Linked DNA regions of Homo sapiens: region 2 is linked to region 1. Evidence: fine-mapped expression QTL. Tissue or cell type: monocytes after interferon gamma. Region 1 holds a variant in brackets; the other region holds the start of a gene. All regions are shown on one strand. Distances are between the middles of the regions.

Evidence for each region. PIP is the estimated chance that this variant, and not a neighbour inherited with it, causes the effect.
Region 2: it holds the start of DMAP1, and the variant in region 1 is fine-mapped to the expression of DMAP1 in monocytes after interferon gamma (Fairfax 2014, PIP 0.93).

The regions. Positions count from the first base shown.
Region 1 is chr1:44,181,062-44,189,167 of GRCh38, forward strand. It overlaps the pseudogene LOC100130714. Among named protein-coding and RNA genes, the nearest start is that of DMAP1, 28 kb to the right of the region's middle. The variant TA/T (reference allele first, on the strand shown) is at 3,056.
Region 2 is chr1:44,208,757-44,216,849 of GRCh38, forward strand. DMAP1 (DNA methyltransferase 1 associated protein 1) reads left to right here and starts at 4,715. Exons shown (of 10, transcript NM_019100.5): 1 at 4,715-5,102; 2 at 5,594-5,685; 3 at 5,947-6,142. The coding sequence starts at 4,998. RefSeq lists a silencer at 4,024-4,123 and enhancers at 4,521-4,815, 4,554-4,793, 5,559-6,060, 6,061-6,560.

The DNA.
Region 1 (8,106 bases):
TTTGTCCTAAGCAGTCCGCAGTATGACAGTGATTTTGGGATCCAAGGTTTATTTTCCTTTCACATCCCTGGTATAACGACCAGTCTGTGTTCAATTTTCCTAATTGTCCCTAAATGTCTTTTAAAGGTGGTTTATAAAAATCAGGACTGAAACAAGACTACATATTTCATTTGGTTGATAAGTCTCTCTCTCTCTCTCTCTTTCTCTTTCTCTGTCTCTCTCTCTCAAGTTAAATACATGCTTTTCTATTGAAATAATTAATATTTTTCCTAGTTTCTAAAACAGAAATCAGATTTCTTTACTTTTTCTTTCTTTTTTTTTTTAGACAGAGTCTTGCTCTGTCGCCCAGGCTGGAGTGCAGTGACATCATCTCAGCTCACTGCAACCTCCGCCTCCCAGGTTCAAGCTATTCTTCTGTCTCAGCCTCCCAAGTAGCTGGGAATACAGGCATGTGCCACTGCGTCCAGCTAATTTTTGTATTTTTAGTAGAGACTGGGTTTCACCATGTTGGCCATACTGGTCTCGAACTACTGACCTCAAGTGATCTGCCCACCTCGGCCTCCCAAAGTGCTGGGATTACAGGCATGAGCCACTGCACCCATCCCAGAAATCAGATTTCTAAACAGAAGAAAAGGCCTTAGCCAAAGAGATGAAGATTAAACATTCAGATTGGCCTAAAAAAAACTGACAAATTGAGTAAATTAACTTGAATAAATTGAACACACATTCAGAACAGAATTGTGTCTTTTGGTCAGCAACATGTAAACCAAAGGCAAATGCCAAGATTAAAGCAGGCTTTCTTCTTTTTTTTTTTTTTTTTTTTGAGATGGAGTCTCGCTTTGTGCCCAGGCTGGAGTGCAGTGCCATGATCTCAGCTCACTGCAACCTCCGCCTCCCAGGTTCACACCATTCTCCTGGCTCAGCATCCCAAGTAGCTGGGACTACATGCGCCTACCACCACGCCTGGCTAATTTTTTGTATTTTTTAGTAGAGACGGGGTTTCACCATGTTAGCCAGGACGGTCTCGATCTCCTGACCTCATGATCCACCCGCCTCGGCCTCCCAGAATGCTGGGATTACAGGCGTGAGCCACTGCACCCGGCTGCTTTCTTCTTTTAAAAAATATATACAGCACGATGTATTTTCTTTTTTCCAAGTTCATTTAAAGTTCACTTTGACATTAATGTGTATTGCTAAATTAGAATGCAAACTTTCTAGTTAAAAAATACATACATAGAATAGAAAGTTCCTTTTATTTTAGTCTTCTTTATACTTTTTAAAAACATTTTTGACCTCGCATACTTAGTGTAAGAAATTACTGCAATAATCATATGACTTGAGGCAAAGGTTTGGGCACAAACATGCTGATGGTGATAACTCTTGTGGTAGTTTAAATAACAAGCAGAGAGGCTTTTTGTTTGTTTGTTTGTTTGTTTTTTGAGACGGAGTCTTGCTCTGTCGCCCAGGCTGGAATACAGTGGCACGATCTTGGCTCACTGCAAGCTCCGCCTCCCGGGTTCATGCCATTCTCCTGCCTCAGCCTCCCTAGTAGCTGGGACTACAGGCGGCCGCCACCACGCCCGGCTAATTTTTTCTATTTTTTAGTAGAGACAGGCTTTCACCGTGTTGGCCACGATGGTCTCGATCTCCTAACCTCGTGATCCGCCCGCCTCGGCCTCCCAAAGTGCTGGGATTACAGGTGTGAGCCACCGCGCCTGGCCCAGAGAGGCTTTTTAAAAGAAAAAGATATTTACATGGGACTAGAGTATTGTAATAGTAATATGTTATAGTATAACTATAAGACACTGTATTGTGTGAAACCATGTGTATATTTATGGAGGTAAAGGAAGACAAATTTTTAAAGAAAAAAATGAGGATTTATACAATTGTTTTGAAATAATTATCTTTGGCTATAAAGATCAATAACAAGAGTGACACCATTTGTAGTTGTTGGGCAAGTGTCCATGTAGAAGTATTTTTTTTTTTTGTACAAAATTGTGATAGTCTTTGTGTAAGGTTGTAGTTTTTGTAGTGTTTTGTGATAGTTTTTGTTATTAGGCATGCAAGAATGAGAACTCTCACTTTATCGCTTAAGTCTTATGAGTTGTTTTCTTTTTTTTTTTTTTGACAGGGTCTTGCTCTGTCACCCAGGTTGGAGTGCGGTGGTATGAACCGAGTTCACTGCAGCCTCAACTTTCTGGGCTCAAGCGATCCTCCCACCTCAGCCTCCCAACTGGCTGGAACTACAGGTGCACACCACCATACCTGGCTACTTTTAAAATTTTTTGTAGAGACAGGGTCTTGCCATGTTGCCCAAGCTGGTCCTGAACTCCTCGGCTCAAGCAACCTGCCCACCTCAGCCTCCCAAAGTGCTGGAATTAAGGCTGGAGCCACTGCACCCAGCCAGTTTGTTATCATTTTAAAAATATTCCTGATTTTATTATGATTTTACCAACTTTTATATATTGTTTTCTATTAAAATTTTTTTAAAGAATTAATTTAATTTAAAAAAAATGACAAAAAGACAAGAGTCTTGCCATGTTGCCCATACTGGTCTCGAACTCCTGGGCTCAAGTGATCCACCTGCCTTGGTCTCCCAAAGTACTGGGATTACAGACATGAGCCACTGTGCCCGGCCAAAATCTGTTTTTGAAAGTATTACTGATCAATTACTTTGTAGTTAGGCTTTGATGTCCTTTGGTGTCAGGATTAACCTGTCTTGGTTGTTGGTCTCATCTCTTGTTTCGGGGAATAATTGGCAACTGAGAGTCAGTGTCAGAATGATTTTAGTCATGTTTGAGTAACAATGGAGTTTGAAGAAAATGGCCCTTAGGCTGTTTATCTAGTGTGTATTATTAAGTTTATTTTTATTTGTTTTTCAGTCTCTCTTTTTTTTTTTTTTGAGATGGAGTCTCGCTCTGTTGCCCAGGCTGGAGTGCAGTGGCGCGATCTTGGCTCACTGCAAGGTCCGCCTCCCAGGTTCATGCCATTCTCCTGCCTCAGCCTCCCTAGTAGTTGAGACTACAGGCAACCGCCACCACGCCCGTCTAATTAT[TA/T]TTTTTTTTTTTTTGTATTTTTAGTAGAGACAGGGTTTCACCGTGTTAGCCAGGATGGTCTCAATCTCCTGACCTCGTGATCCGCCCGCCTCGGCCTCCCAAAGTGCTGGGATTACTGGCTGTTTTTCAGTCTTTTGTTCTTATTTTAAAGTTTTGGGGCAGTATTATTTTGTTAAGAGCTGTATTTTTGTGAAAATGTAACAAGCAATAGATATAAAGTTTTAAAAGGGAAAATTAGAGTAAATTATTAGCAATATGACAGTTTTAGTTTGTATAATGGTTTTGGGCCATGAACTGAGACTTAAAGACTACCAATTGAATAAATTAAATGACCATAGGGAATTTAGTTACACTTGTTGTAATTATATGACCCGTTTTGTTAATTTTCTATAAGTGGATCTTAGCTTTTTTAGAGGAATTTATTTAGGTATAGCATGTAATATTAGTAATAGTATAGACTTTTAAAATTTATTTATTTTAAATTTAAATTAAATTTTATTTTATTTTGAGGCAGGATCTTTCTCTGTCACTCAGGCTGGGTCATGCTAACTGCAGCCTTGATCTCCCAGGCTCAAGCCATCCTCCCACCTCAGCCTTCCGAGTAGCTGGGACGACAGGCCCGTGCCACCACAGCTGCCTTTTTTGTTTGTTTGTTTGCTTGTTTGTAGAAATGGAGTCTTCCTATGTTGCCCTGGCTGGTCTCGAACCATTGGGTTCAAGCAACCCTCCCACCTCATCCTCCCAAAGTGCTGGGATTACAGGTGTCAGCCACTGCACCTACCACTCTAGCCTTTTAAAATTTTAACTAATGGATATTAAAGGATTTTTTTTAAGTTCTTCTTCTTCTTTTATTTTTGGTCAAGAGACAGGGTCTTGCTCTGTCATCTAGGCTGGGGTCTAGTGGTGCCATCATAGCTCACTGTAGCCTTGAACTCCTGGACTCCAGGGATCTTCCTGCCTCAGCCTCCTGAGTAGCTGGAACTACAGGCCTGCACCACGAAGCCTGACTCGTTTTTTTTCTCTTTTGTAGAGACAAGGTTTCATTATGTTGAACAGGCTGGTCTCAAACTCCTGGCCTCAAGTGATCCTCTTACTTTGGCCTCCCGAAGCACTAGGATTACTGGCATGAGCCACCACACCTGGCCTAGGTTAGCTTTTATGTTACTAGCAGAAGTTATTGATTGTGAAATTTTAATTATATCTTTTTGTTCAATGAAAAAGGTAGGCATTAAGAGGGATAAAAGTTTTATTATGATATAGACTCTTGCTCTGATATCTTGGAAAAAGTTGTCTATAACATGAAAACATTAACTTTTTTTTTTTTTTTTTAACCAAGACTTCCTTCCACAAGTAAAAACCATTAACTTTTTCTGGGGGTTGCAGTTTTAATGTCTTTGGTCATGACATTGGATGGTTTGGTGAATCTTTTGTGTGGCCCATATATCAGGCATGAGACTTGGTTTTTAAAAGTTATCTCGTTTTAGTTTAGAAACAGAGTATTTTTTGTTTTTCATTGGGGAGTTGTAGCCAAATTTTGGACGAAATTGGAAAAATTTAGGATTTAGTATAGTGTACAGGTAGATAAAAGGAATTTGAAAATAATGGATGGGGTTATAATCTAATAATAGGTGTTTTATAGGCTTTTTAGAAACATAATTTTTTTAAAAAGTTGATTATATAGAAATCTCAGATTTAAGAACTTTTTTCAGGCTGGGAAACCAAATCAAAGCAGATTTCAGATTTTTTTTTATAGTCTTATGGTTTTTGAGCCTGTAAGAAAGTAACAATTTTTATTTATTTATTGTAAGGTTGAGAACTCTTGAAGTTAAGCATTTTATGTGCATTTAAAAATATGACAATTCAGTCAAAATCTTAGTAATATAACTAATATTTTTAATTGTTTGTTTATAAAGAGAGTAGATTTTAACTGAATTTGTATAAATAATGTTGTTATAAAAATGATACAAATAGTTTTTGAATTTTTTAAGAAATTAAGTAGGGAGAAGAAGCAAATGTTTTTTATCATTGTTTATAAAAGTATAATTATTAAATTATTAATATTATTATTTTTGAGACAGGGTCTCACTCTGTCACCAAGGCTGGAGTACAGTGGCACGATCAAGCTCACTGCAGCCTCAATCTCCCAGGCTCAAGCTATCTGTCCACCTCAGCCTCGTGAGTAGCTGAGACCACGGGGCATGTACCACCATGCCCGGCTCGTTTTTTTTTTTTTTTTAGTAGAGACGAGGTCTCGCTATGCTGCTCAGGCTATTATTGTAAACTATAGATAGTATATGAGAGAAAATTTTCCTTATTTTTATTTTTTCTTTTATAGAAATGGGGTCTCACTTTACTGCCCAGGCTGTAGTGCAGTGATGCAGTCATAGCTCCACTGCAGCCTCTGAACTCCTAAACTCAAGCAATCCTCCTGCCTCAGCCTCCCAAGCGGGGACTACAGGCATACGCCACCACACCTGACAAAAAATTTTTTTTGTCTCTACAAAAAAATTTTTTGTAGAGATGGGGGTCTCACTTTGTTGCCTAGGCTGGTCTTGAACACCTGGCTTCAAGTGACCCTCCTGCCTTGACCTCCCAAAATGTTGGGATTACAGGTGTGAGCCACCATGTCCAGTTGAAAATTTTTTAATGGAAAAGGAAACAGTACTTAAAGCATTACTTAAAGAAATAACAGTATTTTATTTTATAATTGTTTAAAAAGTAATAGAGACAAGGTCTCATTATGTTGCCCAGGCAGGTCTCCAACTCCCAGGCTCAAGCAGTTCTCTCACCTTGGCCTCCCAAAGTGCTGGGATTATGCTTAGCCAGAACTAACAGTATCTTGAATAACAGTTATAAAACGTTGTTTTTATTTTTTTAATTAGTTAACTTTCTGTTTTGTTTGATCTTGTTTAGTAGTTTTGATGAACCTATTAGTTTTTATTAGAGTTTTAATAATTTTCATTTAGTCGATTGATTTTAAAGTTATCAGAAATTTGTGTCTAAGAGTATTTGCTAGAGGCCTTTTTAGTGAAAAGTAATTTTATATTATAGCTGGTGGCAAATGTTTTTAGGGAAGAATTGAAAATAGTATCTGTGGATTAAACAAAGCCTTAGAATAGCCATGGTTAAAATTTGATGAGAGTTTTTTTGCCCAAAACCATACAATTGCAGGGAAATTAAACAACCTGCTCCTGAATGATTTTTGGGTAAACAATGAAATTATGGCAGAAATCAAGAAATTCTTTGAAACTAATGAGAACAAAGATACAACAAAGCAGAATTTCTGGGACACAGCTAAAGCAATGTTAAAAGGAAAGCTTATAGTTCTAAATGCCCATATCAAAAAGTTATAAAGATCTCCAATGTGATAAAGCCTCCTGTGTGTCTAGGACTACAGGTGTGCCCCTGTAACTTATTTTTTATTTTTTAGGAAGGCAGGGTCTTGCTATGTTGCCTGGGTTGGTCTTGATCTTTTGGCCTCAAGTGAGCCTCCTGTCAGCCTCCCAAAGTGCTGGGATTACAAGCATGAGCCACCATGTCAGGCTGAGTTTTTTTAATATAAAATATTTTTAACCTTTTTAAATTAAAAATATATTTTCAAAAATATGTATTTTTTCATATTTATAACTTTTAATATATATTTTCCATTTATTGTTTTTTTAATTTTGTTTCCTATTTTGAAATAACCATTAAGTTAGATTAAAAACATTTTTTAAAATAAAGAGCATATTTTAAAAGTCTTTATAATTTTTAAATTAAAAACATATTTTATTTGGAAATAAGCTATATATTTAATGAGTACTTATTATTTAATTTAACATAAGGAATTACTTTCTTGCTCCACTGATGTCAATTTGAATGTTGGCAGTTTCCAAGGAGGAAGTTGAGGGTTTTGGTGAAGATTGTCATCCATCTCCAACGCTAAGCCTAAAATAACTATTTAGGAGAGCATCACAAAAGGAACGCAGGTTGGAGAGATGTTCCAAATGTTCTTGTAACTGAACTTTAGGAAAGTGCACTTCACGCAGAGGTGCAAGGAAACCAAACACATAGGTAACCAAAGTAGAACGCGTATCTCCAAGGAAAAGCTGAGATGTTCACAATCTATCTGCCAGAAGATTTAGGCACTTCTTAGCATCTCTATATCCATGATTCCACTTCTCACAGGCGGTAAAGGAGAGGCTCTCCTCTGGTCAGGATAATCCGATCAGTGCTGTTGCAGACATTTTTCCAGGCAGGATCAAACCCAAGGGAAAAGGAATCTATGAAGCAAACCAACACCAAGGCTTTGTTACAGTAGAGTAATTGTGGCTTTCAACCCAGAACGTGTGAAGCGCTAGAGGAGGCAGCTTCTATTCAAGGAGAGCATTGAAAGCCAGTGTGTCTGCCCTTTGGCTGGAAATTCATAATAAACATTATATTTCTGTTTTCCTTAAAAGTTTAATATTTTTACCAGCTAAGAAACAATGTTGTCTTCAGTTGTCAAAATTGATATATCTTCCCTTGAACCTCTCCAGTGGCTATCTATGACATTAACTTTCTTTTCTTTTCTTCTCTTTTTTTTTTTTGAGGCAGGGTCTCTCTGTGTCACACTGGCTGAAGTGCAGTGTCACAATCTCTGCTCACTGCAACCTCTGCCTCCTGGGCTGAAAGGTTCCTCCCACTTCAGCCTCCAGAATAGCTGGGACCACCGGCACGCACCACCACACCTGGCAATTTTTTTGTATTTTTAGTAGAGATGGGGTTTTGCCATGTTGCCCAAGCTAGTTTCAAACTCTTGAGCTCAAGCGATCGGCCGTCTGGGCTTCCCAAAGTGCTGGGAGCCACAATGCCTGGCCCAACATTAACTTTCAAACATGCAACAGATAATTTGGCATAAGCCATCACCACCACATACTCACTGTGTACCAATAGGAGCCCCTAGCCACCTCCCAGCCACTGAGCTCCAAGGAGCCACCATCTTGACAGGGCTGATGGTTACTGCTCTTAAGTCTCTTTTAATCAATAGAATGGCTTGTTGTTGTTGTTGTTCATTGTGTCATTTAGTTTT
Region 2 (8,093 bases), 28 kb after region 1:
GGTAGTTGTTTATAGGTGAGATTATAGCCTTCAGAACTCTGGGTGGCTGTGCTGTGATTCTGCTATTAGGATTGCCAGAGACTATACATGAGATCTTTGTCACCAGATACTTCCAATATCATTGGGTCTGTTGGATAATCAGTCCCAAATGGCAGCATATCTTGCACGGTGACCTGGATGTCACACAGAACCCCTTCTTGAGCCAGGCCCCTCTCAAAACTGATAGGTTACCTTGTAAATGAGTCAGAGCATGATCAAATATTGTTCATATGCCTCCAAATCCAAAGAGGACCACCAACTTTTGTAATTCTGTCTTCAAGGTGGGTGGAGCAAGGTGCAGCACTTTATCTCTTACTTTAATTTTTATTTACTTAGTTTAGTTTGGAAAGCAAAATAATTGACTTGCAAAAAAAAGTCTGTAAGAAAGTCCAGACTTTAGAAGGACTGGTTAACCAAATAATAAATACAACATAAAAAAGATAAGCAAACTTACCAATTTGTTCATGGCGGAAAAACAGCAATTCTCTCTCAAAATTATGAGAGTTCTGTTGGAGATCAGCATTGCAAAAATCGGGAATAAAGTTGTCTTTGCTACAGCATCAGTAGTAAGGTACTGGAAAGAATTAAGCTTTCATTTATTTTGGGTTTAGAACTATTCAGTGTGGCCCTGTTTTTGTATTGTTTTGTTTATCTCCAGGAACAAAGTGCTTGTTTTTTTTTTTTTCACTTCTTCCCTGATTGAGGGATGTGATTTGCAAGTCTACTCAAAATACAGGCAGAGAAAGATGTCAGTCTTGCTCCAGTCCCTCTTTGGGGTCTATTACCATTCATAAGCACAGATTTGCCCATCTAAGTTTGTTTAGTGATTTCTGATTTGATCAGATGTTTTGTTGCTGTCATTGTTTTGAGACGGTGTCTTGCTCTGTCACCCAGGCTGGAGTTCAATGGCACCATAACGGCTCACTGCAGCCTCAACCTTCTGGGCTGAGGTGATCCTCCCACCTCAGCATCCCAGGTAGCTGGGACAACAGGTGTGCGCCACCACACTCAGCTAATTTTTGTATTTTTTGTAGAAATGAGATTTCGCCATGTTGCCTAGACTGGTCTTGAACTCCTGGGCTCAAGCGATTCACCCACCTTGGCCTCCCAAAGTATTGGGATTACAGGCATGAGCCACCACACCTAGCCTGATTTTTGTTTTATTTGTCAAGTTTTATTCACATAGGTGTAATGGAAGGTATTAATTTATTCACAGAGACCTCCTTGTTGTTTGGTCAACAAAACACTAAATTTTAAGATTTAACTTCTGTTAACCCTAGGGTTGTAACTTACCTTTATATAGTCAAATTTATCAATTATTTCCTATATGCTTAATACTTGCTTCCTTTTTATTGAGGTATAACTTTCATACAATAAAAGGCACATTCTTAAAGGTGCCAGCTCAATGATGTTTACATAGGAATGTATGTAACCATATACCATCACCCAGATCAAGATGTAGAACATTCCCAACACTCCAAGAGGCTCATGCCTTCTCCCCCTTGGTGCCCCTCCCACTGTTTTGATCTCTATCATGATAGATCAGTTTTGTCTAGTTTTGAACTTCATATGAATGGAATTATACATTATGTATTCATTTGTGCCTTTCTTCTTTCATACAACATTTTGTCAGTGAGATGCATTCATATCCTTGCATGTAGCAGTATTTTTTTCTTTCTCATTGCTTGTGGTATTCCATTGTATGACTATACTATAATTTATTTGTACTTTTGAGAGACTTTTGAATTGTTTCCAGTTTGGGACTATGATGAATAACAGTGTTATGATCATTTCTGTATATGTCTTTCTGTGAACATAAGCACTTATTTCTCTTAGGAATATACCTAGGAGTAGAACTGCTGTGACATCAGGGATATGGATGTTTGACTTTAGTAGATAGTGTCAATGTTTCTATGTGGTTGTAATAATTTTATTTCCACCAGTAATGTATGAGAGTTCTGTTGCTTCACATCCTCACCAACACTTGGTATTGTCAGTCTTTTCACTTTTAGCTATTCTTGTGAGGAAAATATAAACTACTAATATTGAAATCAAGAAGAGATAGACTAATAAGTGTTTAAAATAATCCTTAAAGACTCCCTTTGCCCCCAAACAAAAAAAGGCCTGAGGGTTTTTAGGTCATTTCTACTAAACTAAAATGTATGTGTGTGTGTGTTGCGCATTGTTCAAAGGGTAGAAAAAGAATGAAGGTTCCTGACTCATTTTAGAAGACAAGCATAATTCTGATTCCAAAATCACATCAGGATAGTTAAAAGAAAAGAAAATTATAGGCCCATTTCAGTTATAAATTGATTTTTTAAAAATCCTAAATAAACTATTAGCTAGCTAAGCCCAAAAGTATACCTTCTTTACATATGTATTATGATCAGATGGATTTCATTCCATAAATGTAACATCACAAAATCTGTTAATACACTTCAGTAGTAGACTAAAGGAGATAATTCTTATAAATATATCAATTGATATCAATTGATGAAAAGCATTTTTTTTTTTTTGCTAAAGATGATCACCTTAAGGAATAAATAACTCTTAGAAAACTAAGAAGAATGTTCCTTAATTTGGGAAAGAGTATATACAAACAACCTGGAGCAAATGTTATGTTTAATAGAAAAAATTTAAATGCGCCCCCCTTAAGATCTGGAAAAAGACAAGGATGCCCACGACCACACCTGCTGTTTAACCAATTACTGGAGGTACTGGAAAATGCTAAAAGAAAAAGAAATAAGGGGTATAAATTGAAAGGAGGGGATAAACTTGTCATTATTTGCAGATAACATGGTCATCTTTCTCTAAATATCTGGAATCCATTGCCACTGCTACAACCTTAGTTCAGTTTCCCAACACCTCTAACCTAGATAGTCACAACTGCCCTCTAGTCTCCTAAACTCTGGCCTGGTCCACCTTCCACAGCGCACAGTCTGCCTGTCTTTCCTTCTTCCTTTCCTTCTTCCCTTCATTCCTTCCTTTTATTATAGAAGAGGTACACATTCATTATAGAAAGTATAGAAAATATAAATTGCCAGATAAAAACAAGTGATGGAATCATTTCAGTTTAGTCCTTTCCAGAATTTTTTCTATGTATATACACATTTATAAAAAAAAGAGAGACCACTAACTTTCCCTGACCAGATTATGGAAAGCAGTTCTCCATCCCATCGCTCTATTTCATTTCCTTCCTAGCTCTTGTTACCATCAAAACTTACATTATCAATTTTATTGTCTATTTCCTTAGTGTTTCTCCTTCTCCACTAAATATAAGCTCCACCAGTAGCTATTTGTATCTCGTTCACCCACTGCATGCCCAGAGTCTAGAATAGTGCCTGGCACATACATTCCTTTATGTACTGTGATCCCTGTCTTCACAGAAATGAGTCTATTAGAGATATATATTAAACAAGTAATTACACAATTAATTAACTACAACTAGGGTCAAGTGTTTCAGGCAGCCAATTGCTCTCTCCCTTTCTGGCTCCAAGGACCATTTCCTTACCCTGTGGACAATTTCTGCTGTAAGACTGTGACTTCCTCCGGCAACTGTTTGGAGCTCAGTGGATCCATCCAGGAATCAGACCCAGGAACAGGTTTGTACCTCCAGGCCTAGTTCTCCAAAGTTTTGGGGACTAGTCAGGCTTGTGGCTACAGCTGTTGTATCCCCTTGTCTTCTCCAGGCCAGAACAGGCTACACCACTTATAGCTAACTTGCGCAAACTGTCTGCTCCTCTAGTCCCTGCTGGTATCTTTGGCAGGTCTCGACTTGGGGTCTGGCCTTCTTAATGCCTTAACAAGCCCCACCCTATCCCACAGGCTATGTGTCCTTCAAATTGACAGGCTGGTTTGCAGACTGCTGAAGCTGGGAGCTGCTTTCCTTGTCCCTTGTGCCCTTCCTCAGGACCTCCTGTCTCTCTCTTTCCAGGAAGATCCCCAGGTTTATTCCCTTGAGGGATACTTCTAAGCTGGTTCCTGCTTGGGGCTGTGTTTTGGGCTTCTTCGTAGCCCAAAGAGTGCAGCTAGCTCCTGTACTAGTGAAGTGCCACGAAGCTGGCCTCCAGGAAATCCCCACGAGGCCACAACCCACAGCTATCTCCATCAGAGGAGGTGCAAATGAGGGCCCACACCTTACTCCATTTTGGCAGCCGCCCTAGGAAGCTCTGCCTTTATTTCTTCATCTTCAAGCTTATCACAATTTGAAGTTTATCTCTTCACCTCCAAGCTTAGCACAGTGCCTAGTACATATTAGCACTTAATGAAGAGGGGGCAATTCAAATCATTAACTCATTTAATAAAAAAATAGTAAATGTCCCACGCACCGTGCTAATGTTTTACAAGGATTCTTGGTATTTCATTTACACAGGTGCCATTACAATTTCCATTCGGCAAATAAAGAAAAAGGTCCAGAGAAATTAAGTGACTTCCCAAAGTCACAAAGTTCTGGTATCTCTTCACTGCCTGAGACGCAACGGAGCATCGTAGAGGGAAAATGCCAGAAAGCAGGCAGTGCACCAATGAAAACAGGCTCGCGGGAGAACCAAAGGGTGGCAAGCTCAGCACGGCCAGTAGCTTTCACCCTCGGTTGCCAGTCGGCTTCGTTTCCTACAACACCGACCGGAAGTGTTTCTGTCGGCCGCGTTCCGAATGAGCACCGCCGGAAGTTTCTGCCGCGGCTTTGCGGGGACGGGGGAGTGGTAGTGGGGGCTGCAGCTGCCGGACCCAGGTGCGGAAGTGCGAGGGCCCAGGTGGCTGAAGGGGCCGTTAGGAACATCCAAGCGGTGGGGCACAGGCAGATCCCCGACCTGACCTGGACCACCCTTCTCCTCTTGGCCCGCCCCTTCAACTCGCCTCCGCTTAGGTCTGGATTGGCCCCGCCCCCTGACCTGAGCCTGGTCCTTCTTCAGGCACTGACCCTTGACCTCCGGTGGCTCCCCCATCTCTCAGGCGCGATGGCTACGGGCGCGGATGTACGGGACATTCTAGAACTCGGGGGTCCAGAAGGGGATGCAGCCTCTGGGACCATCAGCAAGAAGGACATTATCAACCCGGACAAGGTAGCAGGGGCACCTGAAAGCGTTGACTAGGGGAGGGTAGGGGAGTGAAGATGGGGAGGAGTGACAACGGGCAAGGGATGGGTGCTACACTTACAGTGAGTTGGGCGATAAAAGGGGTGACATAACAGGACAGGGAATATGTGTCATCCTTGATGGGAGGGAGGAGATGGGACATCGTGGGAGATGGTGGGACCAAGAGGGTATGACACCTCTAAGAGCTGAGAGGACCAGGCAAGTGTGATTTTTGCAAGATATTGTTGGGGAGAGATCAAGACATTGTAACAGTCTGAGAGTTGGTGGGATGGGGAGGGGACTGCTCTGATTTGGGCGTAGGATGGTGTTCCTGGGAGTGGGTTTCTGTGCCTTTACAGTGTGTCAGTTTGCCTGTCATTGACCCTGTAGGTGCTGCTTTGTTCAGGGATTGAGCTGGACTAAAGAATTTTCAGGAAAGGGTCTAGGTTGTGGTTCCTTTCTGTGGTTTCCTTCCTCAGAAAAAATCCAAGAAGTCCTCTGAGACACTGACTTTCAAGAGGCCCGAGGGCATGCACCGGGAAGTCTATGCCTTGCTCTACTCTGACAAGAAGCAAGTATTGGAGTCCCAAGTCCCCCAGGTTTTGGCCCCTGATTCACCTGCCATGCCCCTAACTCCTAGTTTTCTCTAACAATTTTCTCCTCCCCAGCAAGGGCTCCTGCTTGCTTAGCAGGATGCAGGAGGACCTGAAGTCTTTTGCTCCAGGACATGACTTTCTTGCTATAGGGTAGGGTAGATCAGCTCCCTGGGACAAAAAGCTCTTTAACACACCTTCTGATTCTAACCTCGCATCTCCCTAAACCTCCCTGCCAGGGATGCACCCCCACTGCTACCCAGTGACACTGGCCAGGGATACCGTACAGTGAAGGCCAAGTTGGGCTCCAAGAAGGTGCGGCCTTGGAAGTGGATGCCATTCACCAACCCGGCCCGCAAGGACGGAGCAATGTTCTTCCACTGGCGACGTGCAGCGGAGGAGGGCAAGGACTACCCCTTTGCCAGGTTCAATAAGGTAAGCTACCTTCATTCGGACACAGGCCAAGATTGCCCTCCCACTTTGAGCCATTTGTGCGAGCTCTCCAGTCTCCTAGGGTTGGTTCTGGGGGCACGCTTATGCCCAACTGTGATTACCCACTCAATCCTCGTGGCAAATGCATGCAGAGTAGGACTCTGTGGGTCTTTTCTGCCCAAGGGATCCTGTTCTTTCCCGGACCTGCTCTGGTTTTTCATGGCTTTTCTTGGTCTTTCAAATGTTGCTGTTCCTCAGAGCTGTATCCTAGGTGCTCTAGTCTTCTTGTTCTCTACTTTCTTAGTATGAACCCTGTGGCTTCAGTTACCCTCTCTACAAGTCACCAATCCAGAGCAGTGCTTCCTTCGCATCCAGTCATTTACTAATATCTCTTTCTCAATGCCCCACAGGTACCTTACATCAGGTAGGTACCCTGAACAGAGCTCATCATCTTCCCTCTGTCAGTCCCAAATCTGTTCCCCATCTCAGTGAATGGCACTATCTTCCACCCAGTTGCCCAAACCAGAAACTTGGGGGATCGTCCTTGACTTAGTCTTCTCCCTTAGTCCTCACAGTATTTAAATCAACAACAGAACAAAGAAGGTAGGGGAAAACAAACAACAAACATGTAAGGAAATAAATTGGAGTCTTTCAAATAAGAGCCGTCAGTAACACGAAACCAGGATTTGAATGGATATGAAATGAGATAAAGAGTGAACTTGTAGGTGTAGGGGAGTCCTACCTTAGGTTGGTCAGGGAGGGTCTGAGAACGTGGCATTTGAGCTGGATGCCAGTGATACATCTATTTATTGAGTCCTGTTGATTCTTTTTCCATAATAAATCACATCTCTGACTATATTCTTCATCACTATGCCAGCCCCCTAGTCCAAGCTGAGTTACCTGTGTAGCTCAGCACAGCACGGCCTTCCCAGACTCACCCATTCAGTGAGAGGCAGAGCTAGATTGGGCTAGGTTTCCTAGTCCATTACTTAAGTCATTGTACAGTGTGGCCTCACAGCTGCTGCGGCCTGGAATAGCCTAGACTTAGATCCTAAAAGCCTCATTTACCTCTTCTCTAACCAATCTTTGTCCCTGGGCTGGAGTGTCACTTGTTATACCCTATGTATCAAACTTCCCACACGGTACCAAAATTGTTTTTTCAGCTGCAGTATGAGCTTTGAGAGGCTAGGATCCCTGCCTGTCATATGCAGCACTGTGTCTCCAGCATAGGTATTGCAGCCCCATGGTAAATATTTGTTGAATGAATGAAAAAATGTCTTCCTCACTTGACTATGAGCTACTTGAGAGGACTGGCTGCACAGTTCCTGAGGATTTTTTTTTTTTCCTTCTTTGAGACAGGGTCTCTTTCTGTCTGCCAGGCTGGAGTGCAGTGGTGTGATCTCAGCTCATTGCATCCTCCACCTCTAGGGCTCAAGCGATCCTCCCACCTCACCCTCCTGAGTAGCTGGGACCACCGGCATGCACCAACATGCCTGGCTAATTTTTGTGTTTTTTTAAGAGACTGGGTTTCACCATGTTTCCCAGGCTGGTCTCAAACTCTTAGGCTCAAGTGATCTGCCCACCTCAGCCTCCCAAAGTATTGGGATTACAGGCGTGAGCCACCGCACATGGCCCTGAGTTGTTGGTTTGTTTGTTTTTTAGTTAAATTGAATTAAAATGCATAGGAGAAATATGTAACCAAACCTGGGAAACCAGAGAGACTTCCCAGAGGAGATGATGCCTGAGAGCTCGAAAGGTTGAGAAAGTTACCTAGGTAGAAGGAATGTGGAAGTGGAAGGCATTTCAGGCAAGAGCAGAGGTCAAGGGGGAAGTCTGCTATGTTCTAGAAACTGCTAGTCATTTGGCTGCAGTTTAGGGTTCATGAGGGACAGTGGCTGCAGGAGGAGGCCAGGTCATTTATTTGTATGTTCATTAATTGATTTGGTAGACACTG